7 linked regions of the Homo sapiens genome follow. The protein of the gene in region 1 purifies or fractionates together with the protein of each later gene. This does not show direct contact. Each region holds a gene or a part of one and is shown in the gene's direction. Other genes may lie near its edges.

What was found.
Region 2: the proteins of ACVR2B (region 1) and MARK3 purify together in Homo sapiens (affinity purification with mass spectrometry; one large-scale study listed by BioGRID and IntAct). This does not show direct contact.
Region 3: the proteins of ACVR2B (region 1) and KIRREL1 purify together in Homo sapiens (affinity purification with mass spectrometry; one large-scale study listed by BioGRID and IntAct). This does not show direct contact.
Region 4: the proteins of ACVR2B (region 1) and DENND6A purify together in Homo sapiens (affinity purification with mass spectrometry; one large-scale study listed by BioGRID and IntAct). This does not show direct contact.
Region 5: the proteins of ACVR2B (region 1) and TNFRSF10B purify together in Homo sapiens (affinity purification with mass spectrometry; one large-scale study listed by BioGRID and IntAct). This does not show direct contact.
Region 6: the proteins of ACVR2B (region 1) and NLRX1 purify together in Homo sapiens (affinity purification with mass spectrometry; one large-scale study listed by BioGRID and IntAct). This does not show direct contact.
Region 7: the proteins of ACVR2B (region 1) and SLC20A1 purify together in Homo sapiens (affinity purification with mass spectrometry; one large-scale study listed by BioGRID and IntAct). This does not show direct contact.

What each region holds. Positions count from the first base shown.
Region 1 is NC_000003.12:38,456,448-38,460,499, forward strand, and holds part of ACVR2B (activin receptor type-2B precursor), read left to right. Parts: intron 1-2,983; exon of another isoform or gene 2,984-3,127; coding exon of another isoform or gene 3,128-3,242; intron 3,243-4,052. UniProt on the Homo sapiens protein: Transmembrane serine/threonine kinase activin type-2 receptor forming an activin receptor complex with activin type-1 serine/threonine kinase receptors (ACVR1, ACVR1B or ACVR1c).
Region 2 is NC_000014.9:103,489,742-103,493,793, forward strand, and holds part of MARK3 (MAP/microtubule affinity-regulating kinase 3), read left to right. Parts: intron 1-2,035; coding exon 2,036-2,293; intron 2,294-4,052. UniProt on the Homo sapiens protein: Serine/threonine-protein kinase. Involved in the specific phosphorylation of microtubule-associated proteins for MAP2 and MAP4. Phosphorylates the microtubule-associated protein MAPT/TAU. Phosphorylates CDC25C on 'Ser-216'.
Region 3 is NC_000001.11:158,083,963-158,088,014, forward strand, and holds part of KIRREL1 (kin of IRRE-like protein 1 isoform 1 precursor), read left to right. Parts: intron 1-459; coding exon 460-617; intron 618-2,633; coding exon 2,634-2,784; intron 2,785-3,792; coding exon 3,793-3,898; intron 3,899-4,043; coding exon 4,044-4,052. UniProt on the Homo sapiens protein: Required for proper function of the glomerular filtration barrier. It is involved in the maintenance of a stable podocyte architecture with interdigitating foot processes connected by specialized cell-cell junctions, known as the slit diaphragm.
Region 4 is NC_000003.12:57,654,996-57,659,047, reverse strand, and holds part of DENND6A (protein DENND6A), read left to right. Parts: intron 1-1,312; coding exon 1,313-1,368; intron 1,369-2,552; exon of another isoform or gene 2,553-4,052.
Region 5 is NC_000008.11:23,027,393-23,031,444, reverse strand, and holds part of TNFRSF10B (tumor necrosis factor receptor superfamily member 10B isoform 1 precursor), read left to right. Parts: intron 1-572; coding exon 573-686; intron 687-1,723; coding exon 1,724-1,835; intron 1,836-2,842; coding exon 2,843-3,114; intron 3,115-3,691; coding exon 3,692-3,723; intron 3,724-4,052. UniProt on the Homo sapiens protein: Receptor for the cytotoxic ligand TNFSF10/TRAIL. The adapter molecule FADD recruits caspase-8 to the activated receptor.
Region 6 is NC_000011.10:119,171,503-119,175,554, forward strand, and holds part of NLRX1 (NLR family member X1 isoform 1 precursor), read left to right. Parts: intron 1-853; coding exon 854-923; intron 924-1,398; coding exon 1,399-1,487; intron 1,488-1,976; coding exon 1,977-2,596; intron 2,597-2,950; coding exon 2,951-3,772; intron 3,773-4,052.
Region 7 is NC_000002.12:112,655,661-112,659,712, forward strand, and holds part of SLC20A1 (sodium-dependent phosphate transporter 1), read left to right. Parts: intron 1-1,461; coding exon 1,462-1,581; intron 1,582-3,164; coding exon 3,165-3,434; intron 3,435-3,543; coding exon 3,544-4,052. UniProt on the Homo sapiens protein: Sodium-phosphate symporter which preferentially transports the monovalent form of phosphate with a stoichiometry of two sodium ions per phosphate ion. May play a role in extracellular matrix and cartilage calcification as well as in vascular calcification.

The sequences.
Region 1 (4,052 bases):
ATGGATAGATATAAAACAACGTTTTCTAGTAGTCGTGTTAATAAAAGGAAGAAGAAACAGCTGTGTCTTAGCTGGGGCTGCCATAACAAAATACTGTAGACTGGTGGCTTAAACAGCAGAAATTTATATTGTCAAAGTTCTGGAAGCTCTAAGTCTGAGCCCAGGGTGCAGGGTGCTGGCATGGTTGGGTTCTGGTGAGGACCCTCTTCCTGGCTTGCAGATATCTGCCTTCTTACTGCATTCTCAAATGACAGGGGTGGGGTGGGGCAAGGGGGTGTTTTCCTCTTTTTGTAAGACTGTGAATCCTGTTCTCATTACCTGATGGCCCCACCCTCATGACTTAATCTAACCCTCACTACCTCCCAAAGGTCCCGTCTCCAAATACCATTACACTGGGGGTCAGAACTTCATTGTATGAATTTTGGGGGGACACATTCTTTCCATGAGATGGAATGAACTTCAATAGTATATTTTACTGGCCTGGCACAGTGGCTCATGCCAGTAATCCCAGCACTTTGGGAGGCTGAGGTGGGAGGATCACGAGGTCAAGAGATCGAGACCATCCTGGCCAACGTGGTGAAATGCGTCTCTACTAAAAATACAAAAATTAGCTGGGTGTGGTGGCACACGCCTGTAGTCCCAGCTGCGCCAGAGGCTGAGGCAGGGGAATGGCATGAACCCGGGAGGTAGAGGTTGCAGTGAGCCGAGATCATGTCACTGCACTGCAGCCTGGTGACAGAGTGAGGCTCCGTCTCAAAAAAAAAGTATATTTCACTGAATTTGATATATACAAAGTAATTTCAGCCTGAGATCAGTATTAAAACGAGACATTTTGCATTCCATTTTTGTACTGTCATCAAAATCCAGTGTGTGCCTTACAGAACATCCTCAACTCTAACTTTCCACATTTCCAGTGCTCTGCAGAACATTTGGTTAGTGGCTACCATATTAGACAATGGAATCTCAGAAGGGAAGGTAGAATTTATGGTGTAATAAATGTCACATGGTGCTTGTCACAAGATCAGTCAGTGGTTAGTTGGTTCTTTAATAATTCTTCAAGTCTTTTGTGGTCTGTGCTTGGCCGAGTGTCCTTGGGAAACAAGCCATTTGGCTCTTGCATTTCAGTGGACATCCTGGACACTCAATGCTGTATCCTACAAGAACTCCTGACACCTGTCTCTGTACTCTGTACTTGGGGTTCAGATCAAAGGGCTTATGGGGGTGGGGTAAACAGTATTCTAAGTGAAGTGACCAGAGCTCTTGGAGAGGGACCTGCCTCCTGTCTATCCCATCAGGAAGTGCAGGCCCTGATTACTCTGATAGGCTGACCCAAAGAAGTTTCTTGGCCACTTCCTTGGGGGAGGGCGGAGGGAGTGAGCTCATGAAGTGAAGTGACTTTCATCCCTCAGGCCTAGTGTAGCGGTAGCTGCCAAGGACATGGGCTACAGAGCCATGGGCCGTGGGTGCCCCTCCCAGAGAAGAGTGTTTTCTGCTACCTGTCCTTGTATCTGCTGGGCACTCGAGGCTCTGCCCTGTCTGGGTGGGCTGCCTTTTGGGAGGAATGGGTATCCTCCCTAGCTCTTAGGGGCCCTTTCAAGGCAGATGATGTGAGAAACCTGCCCATCTTTCCAGGCCCTATAGCTGGGTAAAAACATAAGATCTAAACCCTATGGCCTCCCATCACTTGGGTGGGCCTCTACTGTGTACTACTCTGTGGGTCTTTCTGGGCATCAAGAATCTCCAGAAGCACCTGGACCTCTGCTGGCACTTCACCTAAGGAACTCCTGTTATAAGGAGCCAATGAAGAGCCCACATTCTATACAGTGGTCCTCCATGTCATAGACCCCTCTGAGAATCTGATGAAAGCTGTGGACCCTTCCTCCAGGAAAATGTAAATCGGTATATGTGTGCATGTGTGTGTACATTGTATGCACCCACTCTGTTTTGTACAGATACTGGGAACCTACTGCCCCCTGATTAGACTCCTTGAAGTCCTGGCTGCCCTGCACATATCCACTGTAGTAGTCTTAAGGGGCAGCTTGTTCTGCGGGGGAGGGGTGCTTTTTCCACCTTGGTACCTCACTTACTTTGCCTTTTGTGATCCTGCCGGATGTTCAGATTCTAGCCCTGGTCTCTCTTTCCAGAAAGCTGTCCTCTTGAGTGCCAGCCTATGCATTCAGCCCCTCTGCTTGGGAGCTCAGGGTAGTGCAAATGAGAACCAAGGAGTATCGGTTCAGGAGTTTAGATCCACTCACGGATACTGACCTGTCACCATGGATTGGGATCTGGAGGGTTGAGGACTGGGTCTGGATAATATTTTTGCTAGTGACTGTAGATAGACTCTAGATAGTCCTGAGGCAGGGTCCTGGTTGCATGGGCCTCACTGTAGAACAGGGTTTCTCAACCTTGACACTATTACATTTTGGGCCTGATGATACTCTGTTGTGTATGGGTAGTGGTGGGTTGAGCTGTTCTGTGCATTGTAGGATATTTAGCAGTATCCCCGCCTCTACCCACAAATTCCAGTAGATCCTCTTTAATCATGTCAACCAAAAATGTTTCCAGATCTTGCTAAATGTCCCTGGCAGAGGTGAGAGCAAAATCATCTCAGATTGGGAACCACTGATCTAGAATGTTCTCACGCTTTCAAAGAGGTCTACAGTTGTAAGAAGTAGGGGTAACGGCTTTTGAGTGCATATCCATCCCCCCACTCTGGATGCAGGGTTGGAGGTGAGGTTCTCCTCAAAGCCTAGGAGATTCCTGCTTAGTGAAATCTGCTCAGCACGTGAGAGTTTGGTTCAAAATTAGTGGTTCTGGTGTACAGCTTACCACCGAGGAGAATCCTGGCGTCCTTGAGTTTTCCCAGAAGTGGTTCAGGTTTCAGGGAGGCGGAGGCTGTGGGTGGCTGGGCAGCCTGCCTGCCCGCACCCGCCCACTCGCCTCTGACCGTTGCCTTAAGGCTGGCACTCAGCCTCTTCCTCCCGTACACGCAGAAATGCCAGGAAGTGCCTGTTGCTGGGGACTCTCTGCCTGCCCAGCAGCCCCTCTCTGCTCACCTGGGGGCCTCAGGAGCTAAGGCTAGCCCTGTCTGCCAAGCGGAGCACTGGGGTTGTAGCAGGCCGTGGGCATGCCCCTTCCCCTGAGTGGACCTGCCATGTGGCGCTCCGGGGAGCCGCAGAGGCTGTGGGCCTGGAGCCCCCAGGCCGGGGACACCAGGGCAGGTGGGCAGCCTCTCCCCAAAGGTATGGGTGCAAGTCTCTCCCTCAGGGTGTGGTGGCCAGATGGGAATCTGAGGGCAGGGCCAGGCTTCCTGCTGTGGACCTGGGGAGGTGTGGGCAGCGCTGCCTTAGACAGGCAGCCGACACTGGAGGCCCTGGTGGAGCGGTTGGTATCTGTGGAGGCTTGTCTATTGGGCTTGGCAGGCTGGCAGCCCCCTGTGGCTGCCCCCATGTTTATTTTCTACTCCTCCCCTGGCCTGCTTCAAGCTTGGCTAGGGAACGCTTCTGTGGGACTCTGTCTGTCTCATCTTGAACTCAGTGAGACACAGTTTGCTGCACTGGGAAGTGATTACAAACTGGACTCTTAGGGTGGAGGAAGCATTTTTCAAAGACCCAGTTTCCAAGTGCTCCACATCACTGGTATGTGAAGTGCTTGCTGAGGTTCAGACTTCCTAGTTCCATCTGTTTTTGGGGTCTTTACAAAGGGGACTTTATTTCCTTCTCAGAATTCTTTCTCTTCCTTCCCTCCGGTTCTATCACTAATTCTGTGTTCCAAAACAGACACCCACCCCCTTGTTCTGGGCTTTCTTTTTTGGTCTCTCATTCTCTACCAGACTTACGGGTCCATCCCAGCCCTAGAGGTGCCTATTCCTTGTGGTCCTGGGGGTACTGCTACTGAATGCCCAGGTTTTCTGGTGGTGGAAATGCTGCTGCCTTCTTCTGACTCTATTACATTGCTCAGTGATGTCTCTGACTAAGGCAGTGGTAGGTACTGGAAATCAATGGATAAAGCAGGCTGGGATTGTTCAAGGGTCAGCCATGTCTCTTCCCGGC
Region 2 (4,052 bases), on another chromosome or scaffold:
TATCCTTAAAGGAAAGAAACTGCCCTTGAATTCCAAGGACATGATTACTGAGCTGGAATTCCAAATAATGTGTCCCAGTGAGACTCCTGGGGGTAGTTTTGTCCGGTAACTGTGTGTGTTAGATGAAACTGCAGACTTCCAGCCACTCTATCTTACCATGTCTGTTAACAGTTAATTTGCTCTGATGAATTTGCCCATCTTGGAGAAGGGGGCTCTGCTGACTGTTTTTTATCTTGGAGTAAATGTCCTTTGATTAGGAAGGTTCTAGACTATATTGTTAAAACAACATTGGAAGGCTGGGCATGGTGGCTCATGCCTGTAATCCCAACACTTTGGGAGGCCAAGGCAGGCGTATCGTTTGAGCCCAGGAGTTCAAGACCAGCCTGGGCAACATGACAAAACTCTCTCTACTAAAAATACAAAATTAGCCAGGCATGGTGGAGTGCGCCTGTATTCCCAGCCACTTAGGAGGCTGAGGTGGGAGAACCACCTGAGCCCAGGAAGTTGAGGCTGCATTGAGCCATGATCGTACCACTGCACTGCAGCTAGGTGACAGCAAAACCCTGTCTCAAAAAAACACCAAACAACATAGGATACTGTTATATAACAGCTAGTTCCTATACCTGTAATCTTATTAATTCATTTAAAATACATCAGTGCGGGCCGGGTGTGGTGGCTCACACTTATAATCCCAACACTTTGGAAGGCCAAGGCGGGAGGATCACTTGAAGCCACAAATTTAAGACCAGCCTGGATAATATAGCGAGACCCTGTCTCTACAAAAAAAATAAATAAAGAAAAAATAAAATATGTCAGTGTGTTTTGGGAACAGGTTGAGAGCATAGCATGCTCATATTATATATTCATTTTACCACTTAGATTTGAATTGAGGCATCTCTTAGAATAGGTTTTATTTTGTGCATACCCTCAGAGGACATTGTCCCTCTCATAGAAACAGATATTCAAACATGTAATCTGCTATTTTATTTTAAGGTAATAGATTTTTATGATTACTGTTTGGAAAAAAAAAAAAGCAACTATAGGTTAGCAGTTGCTCCAGAATCTCCAAAACAAGCTTAGGAGATTTTTATTCTTTACCAGAAATGAGATGGCTTGGGAGGAAGGTGTGTGCATTACACACAGGTTGCTCTGTGGTCACTGCTCCTTCATACTGTGTTTCTGCCTCTGCCTGAACCCAAACCCCTCCCAGCCTGACAGAAATGTTCGCTTACGCAGCTAGCCCTGCCTCAGTTTGTACATCTACCTGTCGGCTGAGACATCAGAAGTCGATGTCCATGTCAGCCTCTGGGCACCCCAAGATGATGTTACCTCCAATAGACAGTGAAGGAGATAACTTCAAGGCTATGTAAGAAAAATGCACATTCTTTGTGAAACTAATGTGTACCCACTGCTTCTTAATTTTGTGCTGTGGATTTTATAGTCTGAGATTTTGTTACAGTTGTCCACAAGGCGTCCTTCCTCCATGTGATTTTAGTTAAGCACATCTTTTGTCATGATGTCCTCGGTTGTGTATTGTGTGTCTTCGTGCCTTCGCGTACTACAAAATGTATAAGAAGTTCCTGCTCCTCCCAAGTTGCTTTCAGCATGTGGAATTTTATACATATATCATTTGTTTACTTCCAAAACTTTTTAGTTGCCTGTTCTTCAGTTACGCCAGCATATCCTTTATTTCTTTCGTATTGGCACAGTTCTCTATGTAAGCAATTTGAGAGGGAAGCAAAGGGGAAAAGTTTGAGTTAGCTGTTCTCTGTCCTAGAATTTCCCTGCATTAATCTTGTCCTTGAAAATATATATAATACTGGTCCCTTAAACTCCATGAGGCTTTGTCTCATTATGTATTGTTCTTTTGGTACCCTTTCCCACTTAACTTACCTTTTGCTCCTAAGTCCTATAAAATACCCCTTGGATCTGGATTTTTTATACCCGATTTTCTCCACTGTGTATAAAAGGTATATTGTGACTGTAAATTTTTGTATATCATGTTCTGAGAGCTTCTTACTTTCTGATCTCATAGCACTATTCCTGATCAGAGAACTCCAGTTGCTTCAACACACAGTATCAGTAGTGCAGCCACCCCAGATCGAATCCGCTTCCCAAGAGGCACTGCCAGTCGTAGCACTTTCCACGGCCAGCCCCGGGAACGGCGAACCGCAACATATAATGGCCCTCCTGCCTCTCCCAGCCTGTCCCATGAAGCCACACCATTGTCCCAGACTCGAAGCCGAGGCTCCACTAATCTCTTTAGTAAATTAACTTCAAAACTCACAAGGAGGTAAGTGCTAGGTGCTGGTTGTTTTGGAGTGAACACATAGAGCAAAAGGAAAGATGTCTTTTTTGTTGTGTGAAGCCACTGCTACCTGGATGCTTTTCAGTCTGCCTTCAGCTCATGGTTTTCTGGTTTTATATATATCTAACTTTATACTTTAAAACCTTTAAAGTAGAAATTGTAGAGCTCAGAGTCTTCATAACACTAAAAGTTAACTAGCATTTAGGAGGTTTTTGTTACTGTTCTTTAATTATTGTTCCTTTTGCTCACGTATCTGTCTGCATGGCATGTTCGTTGTTGTTGAGCAGGCAGACCTCGAGTTCTGGTGTGGGGTGGGGGGCTGGCACTCTGTAACAATCAGCAGGAAAGACCATGCATGTCTTTCATAATCATCTCCAGCCCCAGAGGAAAGAGACAGCTTCTCTTTTCTCACTTTATTGTTGTTAAGGAGCAGTAAATTTCTTAAGAGTCCAAATCTTGAAAGTTTCTCTCTCAGTCTTAGTAATTTATATTGAGAGCAAGGTAATGTCCTTAAATGGTATAGTTTTGGAGATAAAATCTCTGGTTTATTATCAAAAAATAATGTTACTATTATTAAGTTATTTTTATTAAATGCTGCATGATTCTTGGCTGATGGTCCTGGAAATTTTTTAAAATGTTCCATGTGTCTAGTAGGCTAGCATCTGGGGCCTCAGTAAACTCTCAAGGGTCCTTTGAGATTAACTTCATTTCCGTAACCTTGTTACCTGTTACAAAAGCCCAGAAATACTGGCTGCTTCAAGAGGAAAAAGAAAGGATACCACTTTGAACCGTAAACAATAGTGAAAGGCACCTTTCCGAGAAGGAGCCCAGGAAACCCAAGAGCCCCTGCAGTTTCAGGACATCCTTGGAGAAATGTTTTGAAATTAAGCCTAGCTGTGGATGAGTCTGTCTGTGGTATCTTGCAGGTTTGCCTAGGACGGACCCTCTTATTTGTCATCTGTAGCTTACAGGACAGCAGTAGGAGTCTTTCCCGAGTCTGAAATGATCAGTACCCTCCTCTGTTTTTCTGCATTCCCTATGGCCTATAGCCTATTACTTCATTTCACTCCATCTCCATTATTTAAACTAAGCTAAATGTAATCTTGTATTCGATCATCTGAAACTTCGGTGAGTCACATTAAAGTCTGATCTACTTATTATTAGGACATGGAATAGATTAGGGAGTATTCCTTTTTTTTTTTTTTTTAATTTTTTTTTTTTTTTTGAGACGGAGTCTCACTGTCGCCAAGGCTGGAGTGCAGTGGTGCAATCTTGGCTAACTTCAACCTCCGCCTAGATTAGGGAGGATCTCTGACATCCATTAGCATTAACTAGAAGTCAGACGCATCAGAAGGTTTCTATTTACCCTCTTACTCACTTCTTAGCCCCTTTATTAAGCCACCTCATTTTAAACTGGGCAAAACAGAATCAGCCAAAGAGCTTTGCCAGGTTTGGGACACCCATTCATGACCAGCCAGCAAGAGAGACAGTGAGTTCAATCTGAGAAGAGTCTGGTGACTCCCAGAATAAACCATTCCTTCCTGGCCAGCCGTGGTGGTTCATGCTTGTAATCCCAGCACTTTGGGAGGCCAAGGCGGGTGGATCTCCTGAAGTCAGGAGTTTGAGACCAGCCTGACCAATATGGTGAAACCCCATCTCTACTAAAAATACAAAAATTAGCCAGGCATGGTGGTGGGCGCCTGGAGTCCCAGCTACCCAGGAGGCTGAGACAGGAGAATTGCTT
Region 3 (4,052 bases), on another chromosome or scaffold:
CTACTAAAAATACAAAAATTAGCTGGGAGCAGTGGTGGGCGCCTATAATCCCAGCTACTTGGGAGGCTGGGGCAGGAGAATCGCTTGAACCCAGGAGGTGGAGGTTACAGTGAGCTGAGATGGCACCACTGCACTCCAGCCTGGGCGACAGAGTGACACTCCATCTCAAAAACAAACAAACAAACAAACAATAAACCAGTAGGGGCATGGAGTACCAGAAAATATTATAGGCCAGGAAAGAAAAGCAGACAAGGACTGGGAAAGATGTGTGAGCTGAGGACCTAGAGGAAGCCACCACAAGAGCAATGAAGACAGTGGTTGTAGATTAGGGGGTAGGGTGGTACCGCCTACCTAGAGGCGCACATGCAGGTGGAAGGATGCTTCCAGAGGCAGGAGTTTTGGTCTTCAGGGAAGTGTTAGCCACACCCTGCACTGACTTTGCTCTGCTTTCTCCCACAGTCCCCCCAGAGGACACCAGGATTGACGGAGGCCCTGTGATTCTACTGCAGGCAGGCACCCCCCACAACCTCACATGCCGGGCCTTCAATGCGAAGCCTGCTGCCACCATCATCTGGTTCCGGGACGGGACGCAGCAGGAGGGCGCTGTGGCCAGCACGGTGAGCTCCAGCCAGCTCCCCCAGCTCCTCCTGGGCCTAGCCCAGCTCACCTCTCCTTTCCCACAGGGGTTTCACCACAGACTCAGGAGCACACAGACATGAGAGGGGTCTTAGAGGTCATCTGGTTCAACCCTCTCATTCTACAGTTGGGAAAATTGAAACCCAGAGAAGAGAAATGAATTCCTAGGTTTACTGTGTCATTCAGTAGCTGAACAGAGACTAATAGTAATAATAAGTTGCCATGGATTAAGCACCTACTGTGTGCCAGACACCGTGCATGCTAAACACTTTATGGACAGTCTCTCTTAATCTTCATAGGAGTCCCATAAAGGAGGCATTATTTCCAACTCACAAAGGAGGAAACTTGCGCTCAGAGAGGTTGAGTGACTTGTCCAAGGTCACACAGCTGGCACAGAGCGGGGGTTTGTACCTGGGTCTGACTGTGCTTTCTCTCCACTGATCACTTCTACCTCTTTCCTTCAGCGTCTGGTTGTCAGATTATTCCAGTCATCACAACAAAGAGGCTGGGGAAGCAGAGATCCTTGTATACATTTTATAGATGAGGAAGCCATGAAAGATATCAAGTGACTTGCCCAGGATTACATAGCAAAGCGGACAGTACAGCTGGAATTCAAAGCCAGATTTCCTGGTTGGGGTTACCCTGCCAGTTGTGGGTAAACATATGTGTATTCAGCCCTTTGCTGGTGCTGCAGGAGCACTTCTCAGTGTGGAGACAGAGATGTTCCCATGCTCCTCAGCAAGCAATCCCAGGAATACCTGGCTTCTGGCTTCAGTTCTGCCCTTAACACACTGTGTGACCTTGGATAATTCGCTTCACTTTTTTCTGGCCTTAGTTTCTCATTTGACAAATGATAATTCAGCCTCAGTGGTACTTAACCTTTTCACAACCAAAAACTGTGATTTTTCTTCATCAGGGCTACATGTTTTTAGATATTTTGGCAACCAAACAAGTTGGTTTGTTAATATCCATTTGTCATCTACCCCCATTTTTCATATTCATTAAAGACAATGGAGCTTCAAAGCAGCACAAGGGAGCCAGTGTTATTGCACTGGCCCTCAACTGGGCCTGTCCAGCAAAGCTGCATGCATGGTGGTCAAACAACGGGGTCTTACTTTGATTAATAATATGGCTTCCCTCAGGCAGTTTGCAATATAGAAAACAGATCAAGGGTTCCTGTGACCATATTTAGGGACCCCTGGCTGTCACTGAGCAAGTGTAAGACTTCGAGCCTGTGAGTCCCTTCCCTGCCCTCAAGGAGTTTACAGTTTAGCAGAAGAAACCCAACCCTGAAACACGCACACATGGTGCCTACAAGCAAGGTTGGATGTGTCTAGAGCTGTGAGCAGGACACACTGACTATAAGGGCATAAATTCAGTCTGGGAGAGAGTTCTGAGGGCTGGGCTGGCTGAAGAAGGCTTTCCAGAAGAGAAGGGATTTGCGCTGGACTCACAAAGAGTGAACTCTAATATAAACTGTGGCCTTAATAATAATATATTAGTTTCGGTCCATCAGTTGTAACAGACTTATCACTCTAATGCAAGGTGTTAAGGTGTTAGTAATGGGGGAAAGTGTAAGGTCGGGGAGGAGGGTATATGGAAACTCCCTGTACTTTCTGCTCAATTTTTCTGTAAACTTAAAACTGCTCCAAAAGATAGTCTGTGATGTGGGCATGATGGCACACTCCTGTAGTCGCTGCTACTCAGAAGGCTCAGGCAGGAGGATTGCTTGAGTCCAAGCTTTGGAGGCCAGCCTGGGCAACATAGCAAGACCCTAAAAATATATAACTTTTAATTAAAAGATAATTAGTAGTCTATTGATTAAACACACACACACACACACACACACACAAGGGAAGAGGTTGTGGGAGTGAAGGGGATTGAGCTTTAAGTTAAAGTACCCCTCCAGCCCAAGCCCATCTCTGAGTGAGGTCAACTTAAGAGCAGAGGAGGGGGCTTTTAGCTTAACCATATCTCCCACCCTTGTCATGTTCCAGGAATTGCTGAAGGATGGGAAGAGGGAGACCACCGTGAGCCAACTGCTTATTAACCCCACGGACCTGGACATAGGGCGTGTCTTCACTTGCCGAAGCATGAACGAAGCCATCCCTAGTGGCAAGGAGACTTCCATCGAGCTGGATGTGCACCGTGAGTGGGCTGGGGGGAGCAGTCTGGAGCAGGGGGGTGGAAGAAGGGGTGTGTTTGAGAAGCACACTCTTAGTTTGAGAAACACAAACTAAGAGTCCCCCTATGGTCCCCAGGACAAACGCTTGCCTTCTTCACATCTTTCATTCCCTGGATTGAACCATGGGGACTAAGGGCTGGTAGAGCATTGGCTGTGGAGTCAGGCAGTCCCCAGGTCTAAACCAGCCTGTTATTAGTCAATGGTTTACACTCTCTGGGCCTCGGTTTCCAGTTCTGTATACTGTATATTGCAAAAGATAAAATACTGGCCTACAGTCCCTTATTCAAACTAAAAGTGGTTCGATGGTGCAGCCTGAACCAAGGCTCTTCATAGTCTTTTATTTAATTTAGTCTTAAGTTTCACTGCAGATGTATTCATATGTGTGACTATGGGATGTGGCCCAGATGCTGCTGGGGATCTTACACAGTAAACGCTCTATGCACAACCATTGCCTTTCTAAATGTGAAAAATTCTAAATTCTGAAATGCATCTAGTCCTAAGGGTTTCAAATAAGGGATTGTGGACCTGGACCTGCTTCCTGGGGTTGTGAGCATTAAATGAGATATAGCAGAAGAGCATCTAGCATGGAGTATTCTTACCTGGTAGGTGTGTAATAAATTGTCTCTCCCCAGGGAACCATGGGGGTGTGGGCAGCAACTGGGGATGCCCACACCCCATCCTTTTTAGTGAGCCAAGCAAGCTCACACTGACGCCTAGTGGCCACAGTGGGTCATTAGTCCATTGAGTTATTTGTCCCTTTGGTGCCTTCATTGGTGGTCACCCTAGCAGGCCCCCTAGAGGCTCCATGTGCAAAAGGTGAGGAAGACAGTGTGTTAACTGGAGCCGATACACTGCAACCTCAAATTCCTAGATCCCCGCCAGAGTGGTCAGGTCTGAATGTACGTGTTAGGGAGGGAAAAAGAAACTCAAGGGACAGAAAAGACCCTGACTCCCTGTGCTCTACTTTGCAGACCCTCCTACAGTGACCCTGTCCATTGAGCCACAGACGGTGCAGGAGGGTGAGCGTGTTGTCTTTACCTGCCAGGCCACAGCCAACCCCGAGATCTTGGGCTACAGGTGAGGGGGTCAGAGGCTGGGAGCGCTCTGGGGAGTGATAAGGAAGAGTTCGGGGTTAGAGGCTGTACTGGGGAGGCCAGGTGTCATGGATGTAGTTGAGAGGGTCTGAGGCCTGATCCCACCTCTGTGTTGCCTCCTCCCCTAGGTGGGCCAA
Region 4 (4,052 bases), about 19 Mb from region 1:
ATGCAGAGTTTCTTGAGTTTATTACATATTTCTGAATATTACTGAAATGTCCCATTAAATAATTTTTAATGAATTGGTAATATATTTTCTAATGTTTCTTAGGGTCTTTTTTCTTGTTATTTCTCCAGTAGAGACTGGAGAACTCAGAATTTATATTTTAATTGTGAGGAAAAGGGGAAAGTGAATTTTTTTCAATAAGCTTTGATTCTGGCAGAACCTCTTAGGAGAGTGACCAGCAGACTTCTGATTTTAGAAAACTCAGTTAAAAGGATTCTGTAGTTACAATTGCCCTTTATTTTTCCAAAAGCACCATCTGTTCATGGGTGGGGTTGAAGTTTTCATTTGAAATGTTTTAACTGGTGTACATTTTTTTGTTGTACTTTGTTCTTTGAATTGAATAAAAAACAGATAGCAGTAGGAAAACTAGTATTTCTGTTACATATCAACCAGTATTAATGGGAGTATTTCATACAGTTGCAAATTAATCTGATTTACTATTGGATTAATTTTTTCTTAAACAAGGACAGGGTCTCCCTCTGTCTCCCAGGCTGGAGTACGGTGGCACAATCGTAGTTCATGCAGCCTCCAATTCCTGGGCTGAAGTGATTCTCCCACCTCAGCCTCCTAAGTAGCTAGGACTACGGTGCATGCCACCATGCCTGGCTAATTTTTAATATTTTTTGTAGGGATGGGATTTCACTCTGTTACCCAGGCTGGTCTCGAACTCCTGGCATCAAGTGATCCTCCTTCCTGGATTCCCAAAGTGCTAGGATTACAGGCATGAGCTTGGGATTAATTCTTTTTTTTTTTTTGAGATGGAGTCTCGCTCTGTCACCTAGGCTGCAGTGCAGTGGTGCAATCTCGGCTCACTGCAAGCTTCACCTCCCGGGTTCACGCCATTCTCCTGCCTCAGCCTCCCGAGTAGCTGGGACTACAGGCGCCTGCCCCCATGCCTGGCTAATTTTTTGTATTTTTAGTAGAGATGGGATTTCACCGTGTTAGCCAGGATGGTCTCGATATCCTGACCTTGTGATCCGCCCGCCTTGTCCTACCAAAGTGCTGGGATTACAGGCATGAGCTGTCATGCCTGGCCGGGATTAATTCTTTATCCATGTTATCTGCATTATTTTTGATTTTCTGCTATATTAGGGAATATTGGTAAGACCCATTCCCTCTCTGGCTGTTCCTAAAGGAAGAGAATCTTAAAAGTTAGACAGGGCAGCATGGCTTATTGATCATGAGATAGATATATTTTAAAATTTTCCATAAATTTTGGTGATACCTTCTTTTATTTTTCTTTTCTATCTCTCAGGTGGACACAAATATATCTGTTATTTTACCTACTGTTCATGAGGTGGATATTTTCAGGTAAAGAATAAAAAATTTTATTAACTGACTTCCTTTTGCTTTGTGGTGGTGGTGTTAATTTATTTAAAAAATGAATATTATATAGGATGTGGAAAAAATTGGAAGAAAATAGTTATGTTTTACATGTTATAAATCAATGGTTCATCCCTGGGTACATGTTATAAGCTTTGACAATTAGGGAAATTTAAATATAGAATATGTATTATATGTAAAAATATTTTTGTTTGGTTTAGTGTGAGAATTATATTGTAATAATGTTAGAAAACATGCTTTTTTAAAAAAGAGATGCATTTTATTTGGGAGTGAAATGTCATGATGTTTGTGTTCTATTTTAAAATACTTCAGTAAGAAAAAATAGATGACGTGAAAAATGGCAAATATTAATCATTAAATCTGAGTGATATGTATATGATGTTTCTCACACTGTTGTTTTTACTTTTCTGTATGTTTGAAAAATGTCAACATGGAAAATGAAAAAACAAAAAAGAGATACTGTTAGCACTTAGAAAAGAAATAGAGGAAAAATAAAAAGTAATGTTTGTGCCTTTACCCAGAGCAGCTAAATCTTTGGATTGGTACCCAAGTTCTAGTTCCCCAGGTAGTTCTGATGTATAGGCCAGCTTGAAAAACCACTGCTATAAATGAGCAGTTACGAAATGCTCAAAAAGTCATGAAAGACTTAAAATGGATTTTTTTGGTGGGATCTTTTTTCTTTTATTTTTGAGACAGAGTCTCACTCTATTGCCTAGGCTGGAGTGCACTGCTGCAGTCTTGGCTCACAGCAGCCTCCACCTCCCAGGTTCAAGCGATTCTCCTGCCTCAGCCACCCAAGTAGCTGGGACTACAGGTGCACACCACCATGTCTGGCTACATTTTTGTATTTTTAGTAGAGATGGGGTTTCACCATGTTGTCCAGGCTGGTCTCGAACTCCTGACCTCAAGTGATCCACCTGCCTTGCCCTCCCAGAGTGCTGGGATTACAGGTGTGAGCCACTGCGCCTGGCTGACCTTTTTGTTTGTTTTTTATGACTTGTAAACTACATGGAATACTGCTTCAAAAGATTGGTTAGTTTAAAAAAAAAAAAGATTGGTTAGTTTTATATGTTGCTCTAGCACAGTACAGTCATCCTATTTCTAGGTATTTATTCAATAAAAATGAAAATGTGTCTACATGAAGACCTGTATGCAAATGTCTATATAGTAGCTTTATTCATAACAGTATAAAACTATACACAACCGAAGTATCCATCAACTGGTAAATGGACAAACAAAATGTAATACATGAATGCACATGGAATACTATTCAGCAGTTAAAAAAAAGAAGGAACAGTTGATACATGCAACAATGTGAAAGACTTCCAAAAGCATTATGCTAAGTGAAAGTTTCCAGATAATTTAAAGATACTGAATGATTCCATTTATATGATGTTCTGGAAAAGATAAAACTATAGGGACAGAAATCAGATCAGTGGTTACCTGGGGCTGGGGGAGGAAATCTACTACATAAGGGCTGCGGGCATTTCGTGAGGTGATGGAACTATTCTAGATCTTTGGTAAGGGTAAATTTTACTGCATATAAATTATAAATGTGACTTTTAAAACAAATTAATTTTCTTAAAAAGTACATGTTATGGCATTATTAGGATGAAAAGAGGGAGTGTCCCCAAAATGAATAAATATTACAGGCAAAATATACTAAGAAGAATGTGTACATTTCTCGTTTTGATACTTGACTCATTAAGGAATAATTTGCAGAATTGGCATAAATTAATATAGAGTTCAATTATTGGACATTTTTTCTTTTGAACTTCTGGGTATGAGTCTTACGCTTTATTGTTTGTTACTGATTATCTTAGCTTTTGTGGTAATCTTGCATATCCCATATCTGAAATGGTCAGAATCAGAAGTGTTTTGGATTTTGGACTTTTTTGCATTTGGGGATTTTTGCATATACATAATGAGATATCTTGGGGATGGGCCCAAGTTTAAACACAAGGGTCACTTATGCTTCATATACACCTTATACACATAGCCTGAACGTAATTTAAAAAAATATTTTTAATGATTTTGTGCATGCAACTAAATTTTGATTGCATTTTGACTTTGACTTACCTTGAGGTCATAAGTAGAATTTTCCACTTGTGGCATCATGTCAATGCTCAAAACCTTTTGGATTTGGGAACATTTTGTAATGTAGATTTTCACATTAGGGATGCTCAACCCTTAGTTAATTACCCCCATCACTAACACCTTTGATTAGCACATGTCTTGTCTCCTGGATATGAATTACATAATATTGTTTTAAGAGTGGGGCAAGTAAGTTTGTTGTTTTTAAATTCTTGTTTCCCGCCAGATGCAGTGGCTCACGCCTGTAATCCCAGCACTTTGGGAGGCCGAGGCGGGCGGATCATGAGGTCAGGATTTTGAGACCAGCCTGACCAACATGGTGAAACCCCGTCTCTACTAAAAATACAAAAACTAGCTGGGCATGGTGGCGGGCCGCCTGTAATCTCAGCTACTCAGGAGGCTGAGGCAGGAGAATTGCTTGAACCCAGGAGACGGAGGTTGCAGTGAGCTGAGATCGTGCCACTGCACTCCAGCCTGGGCAACAGAATGAGACTCCATCTCAAAAAAAAAAAAAAATTCTTGTTTTCCAAGAGATGAGAAAACCAAATTTTGAAAAA
Region 5 (4,052 bases), on another chromosome or scaffold:
TCCAGCCTGGGCTATAGAGCAAGACCCTGTCTAAATAAATAAATAAATAAATAAATAAATAAATAAATAGGCCGGGTGCAGTGGCTCACGCCTGTAATCCCAGCACTTTGGGAGGCCTAGGCAGGCAGATCATGAGGTCAGGAGATCGAGACTAGCCTGGCCAATACGGTGAAACCCTGTCTCTACTAAAAAAATACAAAAATTAGCCAGGTGTGGTAGTGTGTGCCTGTAATCCCAGCTACTCAGGAGGCTGAGCCAGGAGAATCTCTTGAACCCAGGAGGCGGAGGTTGCAGTGAGCCGAGATCACGCCACTGCACTCCAGCCTGGGTGACAGAGTGAGACTACGTCTCAAAAATAAAAAATAAAATAAATAAATGTGTGGCTTATATTTCTTTTGGCAGTGCTGGTTTAAGGTGTGTAAATGCAGAATTGATGAACTGACCAAGCTAGGTAGAGGAGATTTCCCTCTTTTGGTTCCACACATCCCTGAAAGAGGAGTCCCCCAGCCACCACTGCCAGCTTCTGGGAATCCTGTGGCATTTCATTCACCGGCTTTTCTCTCCCCTCCCAGGACACCATATCTCAGAAGACGGTAGAGATTGCATCTCCTGCAAATATGGACAGGACTATAGCACTCACTGGAATGACCTCCTTTTCTGCTTGCGCTGCACCAGGTGTGATTCAGGTACAGAACATATGGACCCCATGCCTAAAGGTGGAATGCGGGGTGATGACATAAAAGTTGTAGCTAAAATGGGATCAGGAGACCTAGATTCTGGTCCACCTTGGTCTTCATCATACCATGTTCCATGATTTTGTCTTTGAGCTTTTTAATAAATAAAACAGGCCCGGCACAGTGGCTCATGCCTGTAATCTCAACACTTTGGGAGGCATCACTTGAGCCCAGGAGTTTGAAACCATCCTGGGCAACATGAGAAACCCCGTCTCTACAAAAATATAAACATTAGCCGGGCATGGTGGCGCGTGCCTGTATTTCCAGCTACTTAGGAAGCTGAGGCAGAAGGATCTCTTGAGCCCAGGAGGCCGAGGTTGCAGGGAGCCGAGATTGTGCCACTGCATTCCAGCCCAGGCAACAGAGCAAAACCCTGTCTCAATAATTAATTAAAATAATAATAATACAGAAATTATTTGTATAATGTATGCTACATGGTAAGGAAATCTTTTAAACTGTCAGCTGCAAGGGGGTGGGGCCATGAGCCAGGCCAAGTGGACAGGGCTGGATCTCAGCAGTGGCACAGGTCTGCTTTGGGGCCAGGCTCTCTCCCCTGGGCTCTGTGCTCCTGGCAGGTGCTCGGCCTCACTCACCCTTCAGGTTCTCAGGCCTCTCCCTCCTCCCCAGCAGGCTGGGCCTTGGGGAAGTCCCCCAAGGGCTCCTCTCCTTGCAGTCTCTCAGGTGATCCCTTGCACTTCCCTTGCTACTGGCCATGCAATCTAAACGATGCTTGTCCCCTAAACGGTGCTTTCCCCTAATCTAATGTAATAAATAATGAACTGTGGTCCTTTTGTATGACTCAACGAGTGTTAGTGACAGCTGAAGGGTGGGTATCCTGAATGAGCCATGAGTGTGCTGGTGCAGAAACTGGCCCTCAGAACTCCTTGGCAAACTGAGTTGAGCTGAGTAGCAGGGTCTTGGGGTGGGGAGGAAGGGTCAAGGGACACATCAGGAAAACACATTCCCAAAACCTTATGCTCTGTCGTCAGGTGAAGTGGAGCTAAGTCCCTGCACCACGACCAGAAACACAGTGTGTCAGTGCGAAGAAGGCACCTTCCGGGAAGAAGATTCTCCTGAGATGTGCCGGAAGTGCCGCACAGGGTGAGACAGGAGCCGGGGGCTCCCAGTAGCTCCATGGAACCCCAAAAGACCCAAGTCTCCTTGTACCCCTGTCTCTCCCCTGACAGCACCCGCAAGGGGCATCCTTGAGGCTGTGGCTGCCCCTCCTGGTCCCTCTGCGTGTCACCACCCCTGCCCCCTGCAGCAGCCTCTTTCCACCCCTCCCCAGCACGAGTCCCCTTGACCAGGCTGACTTGTTCACTGACCACAGAAGGCCATGACTTGGGGCCCATGATAATTTTAGGGGCCCATGAAATGATTTAATTTCTCTTGAAATAAGAAGAATGAGTAGAATGCAGCCAGGCATATATTCATCTTTATACCAATTCAGCAATAAAATGTATTTTTTAATATTTTTATGCATGCAGGGGCCCATAAAGACAAAAGTGCCCATGGCCCACAAAAGGCATAATAAGGCCATGGGTGGAGCTCCTTCAAGTTCCCATGAGGACCTGAGCCCACCCAGCCGGCCTCACCCCTGGCCCCTGATCCCTCAGTAAGACCTGTCTTTTCCCTATTTGGGTTTTAGGGGCCAAGAGTAATTTGCTCTTCTCTGGCCCCCCTAGTATTTGCTGTGATTGGGGGAAATGGGCAGACAGCTGGGGACAAGAGCTCACTTTTGTGGTTGACTGGAAGACCGGACTCATCTTGTGGCCACACGGGCTTGTGACCTTCCCCTGGAGTGTGATTGCTCCTAACGCAGGCCTCCCCTGCAGCCCAGGGAAGCTCAGTGTGTGCCCAGCACAGAAGGCTCCTGGAACTGCAGCTCTGACCCCAGAGCAGGGAGGCCGAGGGGCTGAAGTGCGCATGCTCAGACCCTTCCCCAGCCTCAAGAAGGGAGCACAGGGGGACCCACTGCTGACACGAGGAGACTGTCCTTCCCCTGACACCTTCTCAGGGACACTGGGGAGGGAGGGTGGCTCCTCTTTCATCCCACCTGGCCAGCTTTCCATCAAGAGTCCCCCCTCTCCCTCTGTGTGTGTACCCAGGTGTCCCAGAGGGATGGTCAAGGTCGGTGATTGTACACCCTGGAGTGACATCGAATGTGTCCACAAAGAATCAGGTACAAAGCACAGTGGGGAAGTCCCAGCTGTGGAGGAGACGGTGACCTCCAGCCCAGGGACTCCTGCCTCTCCCTGTTCTCTCTCAGGCATCATCATAGGAGTCACAGTTGCAGCCGTAGTCTTGATTGTGGCTGTGTTTGTTTGCAAGTCTTTACTGTGGAAGAAAGTCCTTCCTTACCTGAAAGGCATCTGCTCAGGTAGGTGCTGGCTGAGGGCGGGGGCACAGGGCACTCTCTGCCCTGCCCCCTCCCACCCTATTCCCACAGACAGAAACGCCTGCCCCTGCCCCAAGTCTAAGTGCCTCCAGCCTGGCTCTATCCTCCTCCTCGTGGTCACCCCCATCCCCACATCCCGTGCACCCCCCAGGACCCTGGTCTCTTCAGTCCCTCTCCCAGGTCTGGGGGTCCCCATATCTCCCAGCCAAGTCCAGGAGGGCAGGGCCAGTTCCTCCCATCTTCAGGCCCAGCCAGGCAGGGGGCAGTCGGCTCCTCAACTGGGTGACAAGGGTGAGGATGAGAAGTGGTCGTGGGATTTTTTCAGCCTTGGTCAGAGCAGAACCAGAGATTTTCCAAGTGTTTGTTTTTACTCTAGTTCCCCTTCTCATCCCCCTTCCTCAGGGTGTCTCTGAGTTGTAAGGCCCCATTCTGTCCCCAGCCCCAGGGCTCCTTGTCCAGTGTCCCAGCCCCCAGCCCAGCCCTGCGCCCCACTGTCCTCTGGGAGGGGGGTGCTTCATGGGCCCCTCCCTTCCTGCTAAGGAGACTGCTTCTTTTTTAGGTGGTGGTGGGGACCCTGAGCGTGTGGACAGAGTGAGTTGATTTCTCCAGGAGCTGGGGGCTCAGGGGTTCAGGAACTGCTTCCTGGGACAGCAGAACCTGGGTGGGTGGGTCCCCATTGTCCTCATGGCTGCCCTGACTCTCTGAAGTGGCCTGGGTGCTCTGGGCTGACTGTGGGGGACACATGGCCATTTTGAGCACCACATAGGCTGGTGAGCCCTGCTGCAGCCCAGGTGACATCCTCACCCCACAGCCTGCACCCTAGGGATGGGGTGTCTGCCTGAGCACAGCACTGGGGGCCTGGCCCCAGCAGCGGGTCCTGGATGTGCTGAGTCTGGGCTGCCTGCGGTGACCTCACTGAG
Region 6 (4,052 bases), on another chromosome or scaffold:
ACCTCTTTCTTGCTTTCCAGGGTCCACATGATGCCTCCAAGACAGCAGGGATCCAGACACCAGGTGCACTAGTCTCAGCTCCGTGGTTCTCTAGCTGTTGACCTTGAGCATGTCGCTTCACCTTCCTCAGCTGCCTTTTTCCCAACCTAAAATAAGGGAGTTGGACTTGGCCAGGTGCGGTGGCTCATGCCTGTAATCCTAGCACTTTGGAAGGCCGAGGCAGGCGGATCACAAGATCAGGAGTTTGAGACCAGCCTGGCAACATGGTGAAACCCTGTCTCTATTAAAACTACAAAAAAAAAAATTAACCAGGTGTAGTGGTGCACACCTGTAATCCCAGCTAGTTGGGAGGCTGAGGCAGGAGAATCATTTGAACCGGGAGGCAGAAGTTGCAGTGAGCTGAGATCGCACCATTGCACTCCAGCCTGGACAATAGAGTAAGACTCTGTCTCAAAAAAAAAAAAAGAGAGTTGGACTAGATCATCTTCGAGAGTCTCTTGTAGCTACATAAGTCTAGGAACTTGTCTGATTTTACTTTACATACAACAGAGATTTACTGAGTGCCTGCCGTACCGCAGACCTGGTGTTAAGTTCTAAGTAAATAATTGTGAACAAAAACAGACGTAAAGGGGACAAAAAAATTTTAAAACACCCAAATGTGATCCCTCTCATGGAGGAGAGAGGAATGAATGTTAATCGAATAATCACACAATGAAATATAAAATTGCAAAATAACTGCTGCAAAGGGGCAGTACATGCTGCTATGAGAGCAAATACTGGGGGGTTTGATGTAGACATGGGTTCTGTGTATTGCATGGGATCTGCAGATGCTATTTCTTCCTTCTCTCTGTAGATGATCGTATCCCCTTCCTGATCCACTGGAGTTGGCCCCTTCAAGGGGAGCGTCCCTTTGGGCCCCCTAGGTGAGGCCTGGGTGTCATACCTTAGGACTAGTCTGGGCACAACAGAGCAGACTGGGAAGGGTCAGGACTTGGGGCTAGCTTGATCTCTTGGGGACCTTGGGGAGGGGCTTGGTCCTTTGGGGGTGGGAGGACAGTGGCAGCTCCAAGGCCTGAGAGGAAGTTGGCTTAGATCATCTGTGGTAGAAGGCATAGTAGTCAGTGGAGGGAGGACCCTGTGGGAAGTGGGTGGAGCCTCACATGGCCAGCCTGAGTTCCAGGCGGGCAGTCAGCAGTGGGGTCTGGAGGGCTAGGGCTAAGGCCTCAGCACCTGGGAAGGGTGTGAGAGTCAGACAAGCCTCTAAACTTGGGGGTCCAGTGTGGGGCCTTTATCTCAGGAAACCAGAAGTCTAGCAGTGCAGATAGGCTTGGACCCAGAGCCTGTGAAGGGGCTGATCCAAGTTACAAGTCCCAGCTCATCCCCTCTCCTTGTTCCCAGGGCCTTTATACGCCACCACGGAAGCTCGGTAGATAGCGCTCCCCCACCCGGGAGGCATGGACGGCTGTTCCCCAGCGCCTCTGCAACTGGTAAAGGGACTGGCTGGGACCCTGGTCAGGGGGTGTGGTGGGCAGACGGGGCTGGAAGGAGAAGCAGGGTGAGGGAGGCATAGAGGATCCACTGCCATCTTCCATCGGTGGTCCCTCCTCCTCTCTCTCTCTCCCTCCCATCCGTCTATGTATCCCTTCCTGCAATACTCTTGCAATGCACACTTATATGTACAAAGCGCTAGGAGAGCCATACCATCCCTATGCTCAACAAAGTTGGGTCAAGCAGGTTAAGACGGCACATAGGTCACTGTGAAACCAGTTTGTCCAGTGGCTTCCCACTTTCTGACATAGGGGTTCCAGACTTTCTGGACAGTCTATATTTTCTCAGGGAGTCTTGTGTGCCCACCATTGTGGGCCCCAGCATCTATGCCGTGATGTCCCAGCCTGACCTCACCACCGCCCTGATTGGCCCTAAGCTACATCTCCAGGCCCCTTTCCCTGACACATTTCCCTTATCTTCCCACTCAGAAGCTATACAGCGGCACCGCCGGAACCTGGCTGAGTGGTTCAGCCGGCTGCCCAGGGAGGAGCGCCAGTTTGGCCCAACCTTTGCCCTAGACACGGTCCACGTTGACCCTGTGATCCGCGAGAGTACCCCTGATGAGCTACTTCGCCCACCCGCGGAGCTGGCCCTGGAGCATCAGCCACCCCAGGCCGGGCTCCCCCCACTGGCCTTGTCTCAGCTCTTTAACCCGGATGCCTGTGGGCGCCGGGTGCAGACAGTGGTGCTGTATGGGACAGTGGGCACAGGCAAGAGCACGCTGGTGCGCAAGATGGTTCTGGACTGGTGTTATGGGCGGCTGCCGGCCTTCGAGCTGCTCATCCCCTTCTCCTGTGAGGACCTGTCATCCCTGGGCCCTGCCCCAGCCTCCCTGTGCCAACTTGTGGCCCAGCGCTACACGCCCCTGAAGGAGGTTCTGCCCCTGATGGCTGCTGCTGGGTCCCACCTCCTCTTTGTGCTCCATGGCTTAGAGCATCTCAACCTCGACTTCCGGCTGGCAGGCACGGGACTTTGTAGTGACCCGGAGGAACCGCAGGAACCAGCTGCTATCATCGTCAACCTGCTGCGCAAATACATGCTGCCTCAGGTGGGTGGCCCTTTACCCCAGGTTATCACTGCTGCCCGTTGACTCGCCCCCTAGGTCCTGGGTTACTTTAACTCCTGGTCCCTTCACTTCCCAGTGGTGCGACCCTGAGCAAGTCAGTAACTTCCCCAGCCTTCTGTTCCTTTCTTTTTGAGTTGCTCTGATCAAATGGGGTACTGCATATAATATTAGCACAGCGGCCTGGATCACAGCAGGTGTTCAGTAATTGCTAGTTATAACTGTTATCCTCATCAATGTCTTCATCCTTGGACACTCCGTCTTCAGGGGTCCCCTGGGAATAGAAGCAGTCAACAGGACACTAAGGTCTTTCTTAACTCTCAACCATGCTCTTCCCAGGCCAGCATTCTGGTGACCACTCGGCCCTCTGCCATTGGCCGTATCCCCAGCAAGTACGTGGGCCGCTATGGTGAGATCTGCGGTTTCTCTGATACCAACCTGCAGAAGCTCTACTTCCAGCTCCGCCTCAACCAGCCGTACTGCGGGTATGCCGTTGGCGGTTCAGGTGTCTCTGCCACACCAGCTCAGCGTGACCACCTGGTGCAGATGCTCTCCCGGAACCTGGAGGGGCACCACCAGATAGCCGCTGCCTGCTTCCTGCCGTCCTATTGCTGGCTCGTTTGTGCCACCTTGCACTTCCTGCATGCCCCCACGCCTGCTGGGCAGACCCTTACAAGCATCTATACCAGCTTCCTGCGCCTCAACTTCAGCGGGGAAACCCTGGACAGCACTGACCCCTCCAATTTGTCCCTGATGGCCTATGCAGCCCGAACCATGGGCAAGTTGGCCTATGAGGGGGTGTCCTCCCGCAAGACCTACTTCTCTGAAGAGGATGTCTGTGGCTGCCTGGAGGCTGGCATCAGGACGGAGGAGGAGTTTCAGCTGCTGCACATCTTCCGTCGGGATGCCCTGAGGTTTTTCCTGGCCCCATGTGTGGAGCCAGGGCGTGCAGGCACCTTCGTGTTCACCGTGCCCGCCATGCAGGAATACCTGGCTGCCCTCTACATTGTGCTGGGTTTGCGCAAGACGACCCTGCAAAAGGTGGGCAAGGAAGTGGCTGAGCTCGTGGGCCGTGTTGGGGAGGACGTCAGCCTGGTACTGGGCATCATGGCCAAGCTGCTGCCTCTGCGGGCTCTGCCTCTGCTCTTCAACCTGATCAAGGTAACATCCCGATCAAGGTAACCCCCCAACCTGCTCCTTCCCTCCCCAGCACCCCAAGCCGCCCACGCCCCCACATGGTTCCCTGTTCACCCCTTGCTCCTCTCCCAGCAGGAAACTGCTGCTTCCTGCAAAGGTATGAATCTTCTCCCTGGATCTGGTTTCAGCTCTGAGCATTTTGGCTTTTAGTGGGATTGCAGAGAGAGAAGCCACAAGGCTGGGGAAGGCTTGGTGGCTGGGGAAGGGAACCTGGGGACGTGGGGACTTTAATAATAATGCTACA
Region 7 (4,052 bases), on another chromosome or scaffold:
TGTTAGATTTAAATAGGATTGTATAGTGCTTTACTTCTTTTCGTTTGTTTTTGTGACGGAGTTTCGCTCTTGTCACCCAGGCTGGCTGGAGTGCAGTGGCACGATCTTGGCTCACTGCAACCTCGACCTCCTGGGTTCAAGTGATTCTCCTGCCTCAGCCTCCCAAGTAGCTGGGATTATAGAAGCCCACCACCACATCCAGCTGATTTTTTTAATTTTCAGTGGAGACGGGGTTTCACCATGTTGGCCAGGCTGGTCTTGAACTCGTGACCTCAGGTGCTCCACCTGTCTCAGCCTCCCAAAGTGCTGGGATTACAGGTGTGAGCCACTGTGCCTGGCCAGTGCTTTACTTCTGTCTTTAGTACAGGCTAATGGTTTGGAGCCTACTGGCGTGCATATGACAGTCAGATAATGACTAATATTACTCATTCTTAAACCATGTGAACAGTGTTGCTAGGCAAGTCTTTTTTTAAGGTAAGACTTGTAAGTGAAATTACCACTAAACTTTGTGTGTGAGAAAGACAAAACTTTTTTTTTTTTTTTTTTTTTTTTTGAGACAAAGTCTGACTTTGTCACCCAGGCTGGAGTGCAGTGGCGCAATCTCAGCTCACTGCAACCTCCGCCCTGCCAGGTTCAAGTGATTCTCCCACCTCAGCCTCCCGAGTAGCTGGGACTACAGGCGCCCACCACCATGCCCGGCTAATTTTTTTTTGTATTTTTAGTAGAGATGGGGTTTTGCCATGTTGGGCAGGCTGGTCTCGAACTCCTGACCTCAAGTGATCTGCCTGCCACGGCCTCCCAAAGTGCTGGGATTACAGGCATGAGCCACCGTGCCTGGCTGAAAGACAAAGCTTTTACAACTATTCTTAAATTATCAACTTTTGATAGATAATATCCTTGTTTTCTGTATCTTGCTTTGATACTGCTTTCAAGGAGATAATCTCATTAAAGCATTTTACTAAAGGCCAGTATAGTGAATGTAATCACTTTTACACAGAATTGTGTCAGCATGACAAATGTGACTACTGAGACATCATTCTGTTAACATTAAAATAAGTTTGTAGGTGGTAATGGAATATGTGGCAGTTACGATCATGAGCTAGGAGAGTGGAACACTTGCTGTCTTTTTCATAGCTAGTCATAGGTCCTTAGCGTGTAGTGATCTTTATTATCTTCCAAGGTGAAGAAAGGAAAAGGCTCGTATGTTGAGAAGCATAGGAACTTGAGTCCCGCAGGTGTTCAAGTGGGCTAGGCTGGTGTGGGTTTTCAGATGATCATTGAGTTTTTCTCCCAAATTTGTATAGGCACTAGCACAGTAATCCTGTGCACTTAAATCTGGCAGCAGCTGTCAGGGGTGATGGGCTGGTATGGGGAACCCCTCAGTCCCCAGAGGAGGGTTTACACAATATTGCAGGGGGCTGTTGCCCTGGGGTTTTCAAGATGCACCATTTTATCTCCTAGTGCTGGGCTTTGACAAACTTCCTCTGTGGGGTACCATCCTCATCTCGGTGGGATGTGCAGTTTTCTGTGCCCTTATCGTCTGGTTCTTTGTATGTCCCAGGATGAAGAGAAAAATTGAACGTAAGTAATAACTAAACAGCAGAAAAGTTTAACTACTAATGTTGTGTTTATTTTTTATTTGGCCACCTGTAAAAATCTATTAGAAGAGATTGGCAAAATAAGAGATTTTAAAGGGAAATTTGAGGATATGGGTTTGTTGTCCAAACTGTTTTTAGAAATGGACTTACATGACCTAAGACCTGTTCTTAAAAATGGACTTACATGACCTAAGACCTAGTGATAAAGAGTATTCAACCTATGCTGTAGAGACAATCTGGGGCATTGAATTTTTTTATGTTCCTTGATCAGTTGCCAGTGACATGATAGATAAATAGAGAAATCATAGCCTACATTTACTGAGAAGTAGAAGGATACCTTAATGAAAAATAAGGGGTAGATACAAGATATTTTCGTAGAGGAAATATTTACCCCAACTGCTTCTGTGTATAACTTCAGATTCAGACAAGCAAAGCTAAGTCTAATGTGTACATGTTGTATATAGGCTAGAATACATGTAGACATTGTATTGCAGTATACAATGCAAATACATATACAAACACACATTGTGTGTCTGCTAGAATTGTAGCACAGATTCTAGAAGTAAACATTTTCAAGTGTCAAGGAATCATTTAGGCCATTACCACACACTCATGTAATTAAATACTGAGTAAATTTTGGTTAGTATCGGACTTTTTTTTCCTTAAAATAATCATTTTCTGCCCTTTTCATCGATGTGAAGGCTGGGTTAGCAAGTTGAAGTTTATCGTTTCGAAGCTGAGGGATGCATAGACTGCAGTGGTGTTAGGAAGAACGCTGCGTCACCGCAGCTGAACCGAAGAGCCTCCGAGAGGTTCTGTGCTAGTCTGGCTGTGCCGAGTGCACGGTGGGAACCAGGCTTTCAGGACTCTCTGGCCTCATTTTCCCTCTCTGGGAGGAGTTGAGACAAGTCTTGCTTTATGTTAGTCAGTCTGTAGTTTGACTGAGGTGCCTGGATGGATAGGTCAGCATACTGAGCACTGGCATGAGAGAGGCAGAAGATACTCTGGTCTGCCTGTGGGATTTACAGCCATGATGCACATCTCTTTGTTTTATAGAGGTGGAAATTAAAGTTGTCGTCTTTAGTTCCCTGCATTGAGCTGTGCCACTTTGCTTGAATTGGTGGACTGAAATTTGAGAGAATCCTCTTTTGAAAAGAATAGAATTGGGTACAGTTCAGATTTTTAGTTTCAGCTTATCAGCCCCATGGTTGAGCTACTTTCCCCTACAGAATGAGTCAGCAGGGAGCTAAGAAGGGTTCTTATATCTGTAAAGGGTTGTAAAAATAAAAACAAAACAACAATGTGCTACAGAAGCCCGTAAAACCTAAAATATTTACAGAAAAATTTTGGGACCCCTGACATAGGGTGTTCTGCATTGCTGGTTGTTCCCAAGTGAGAGTTGCTGGCAAATGATAAAGCAGGCAGGAAAAATGTTCCTGAATGTTAATTGAAGTTCACATACATTCTTGTTTTGAGATGAGTTTTTTGGGGGTGGAGGAAAGGAGACGTGGAACAAAGTAGTATGGCCACAACCAAACCAAAAAAGACCCCCCTTTTTTTTCCTAGGAGAAATAAAGTGTAGTCCTTCTGAAAGCCCCTTAATGGAAAAAAAGAATAGCTTGAAAGAAGACCATGAAGAAACAAAGTTGTCTGTTGGTGATATTGAAAACAAGCATCCTGTTTCTGAGGTAGGGCCTGCCACTGTGCCCCTCCAGGCTGTGGTGGAGGAGAGAACAGTCTCATTCAAACTTGGAGATTTGGAGGAAGCTCCAGAGAGAGAGAGGCTTCCCAGCGTGGACTTGAAAGAGGAAACCAGCATAGATAGCACCGTGAATGGTGAGTTGGAATTCCTGGTTTCACTTTTGTTACCTGCAGTGGTGAGGAGGCTTATTGTTTTGGATTTGATGCTTTTTGTATTGAATGTCACCTTGGTGATCTTGACTAGGTGCAGTGCAGTTGCCTAATGGGAACCTTGTCCAGTTCAGTCAAGCCGTCAGCAACCAAATAAACTCCAGTGGCCACTACCAGTATCACACCGTGCATAAGGATTCCGGCCTGTACAAAGAGCTACTCCATAAATTACATCTTGCCAAGGTGGGAGATTGCATGGGAGACTCCGGTGACAAACCCTTAAGGCGCAATAATAGCTATACTTCCTATACCATGGCAATATGTGGCATGCCTCTGGATTCATTCCGTGCCAAAGAAGGTGAACAGAAGGGCGAAGAAATGGAGAAGCTGACATGGCCTAATGCAGACTCCAAGAAGCGAATTCGAATGGACAGTTACACCAGTTACTGCAATGCTGTGTCTGACCTTCACTCAGCATCTGAGATAGACATGAGTGTCAAGGCAGAGATGGGTCTAGGTGACAGAAAAGGAAGTAATGGCTCTCTAGAAGAATGGTATGACCAGGATAAGCCTGAAGTCTCTCTCCTCTTCCAGTTCCTGCAG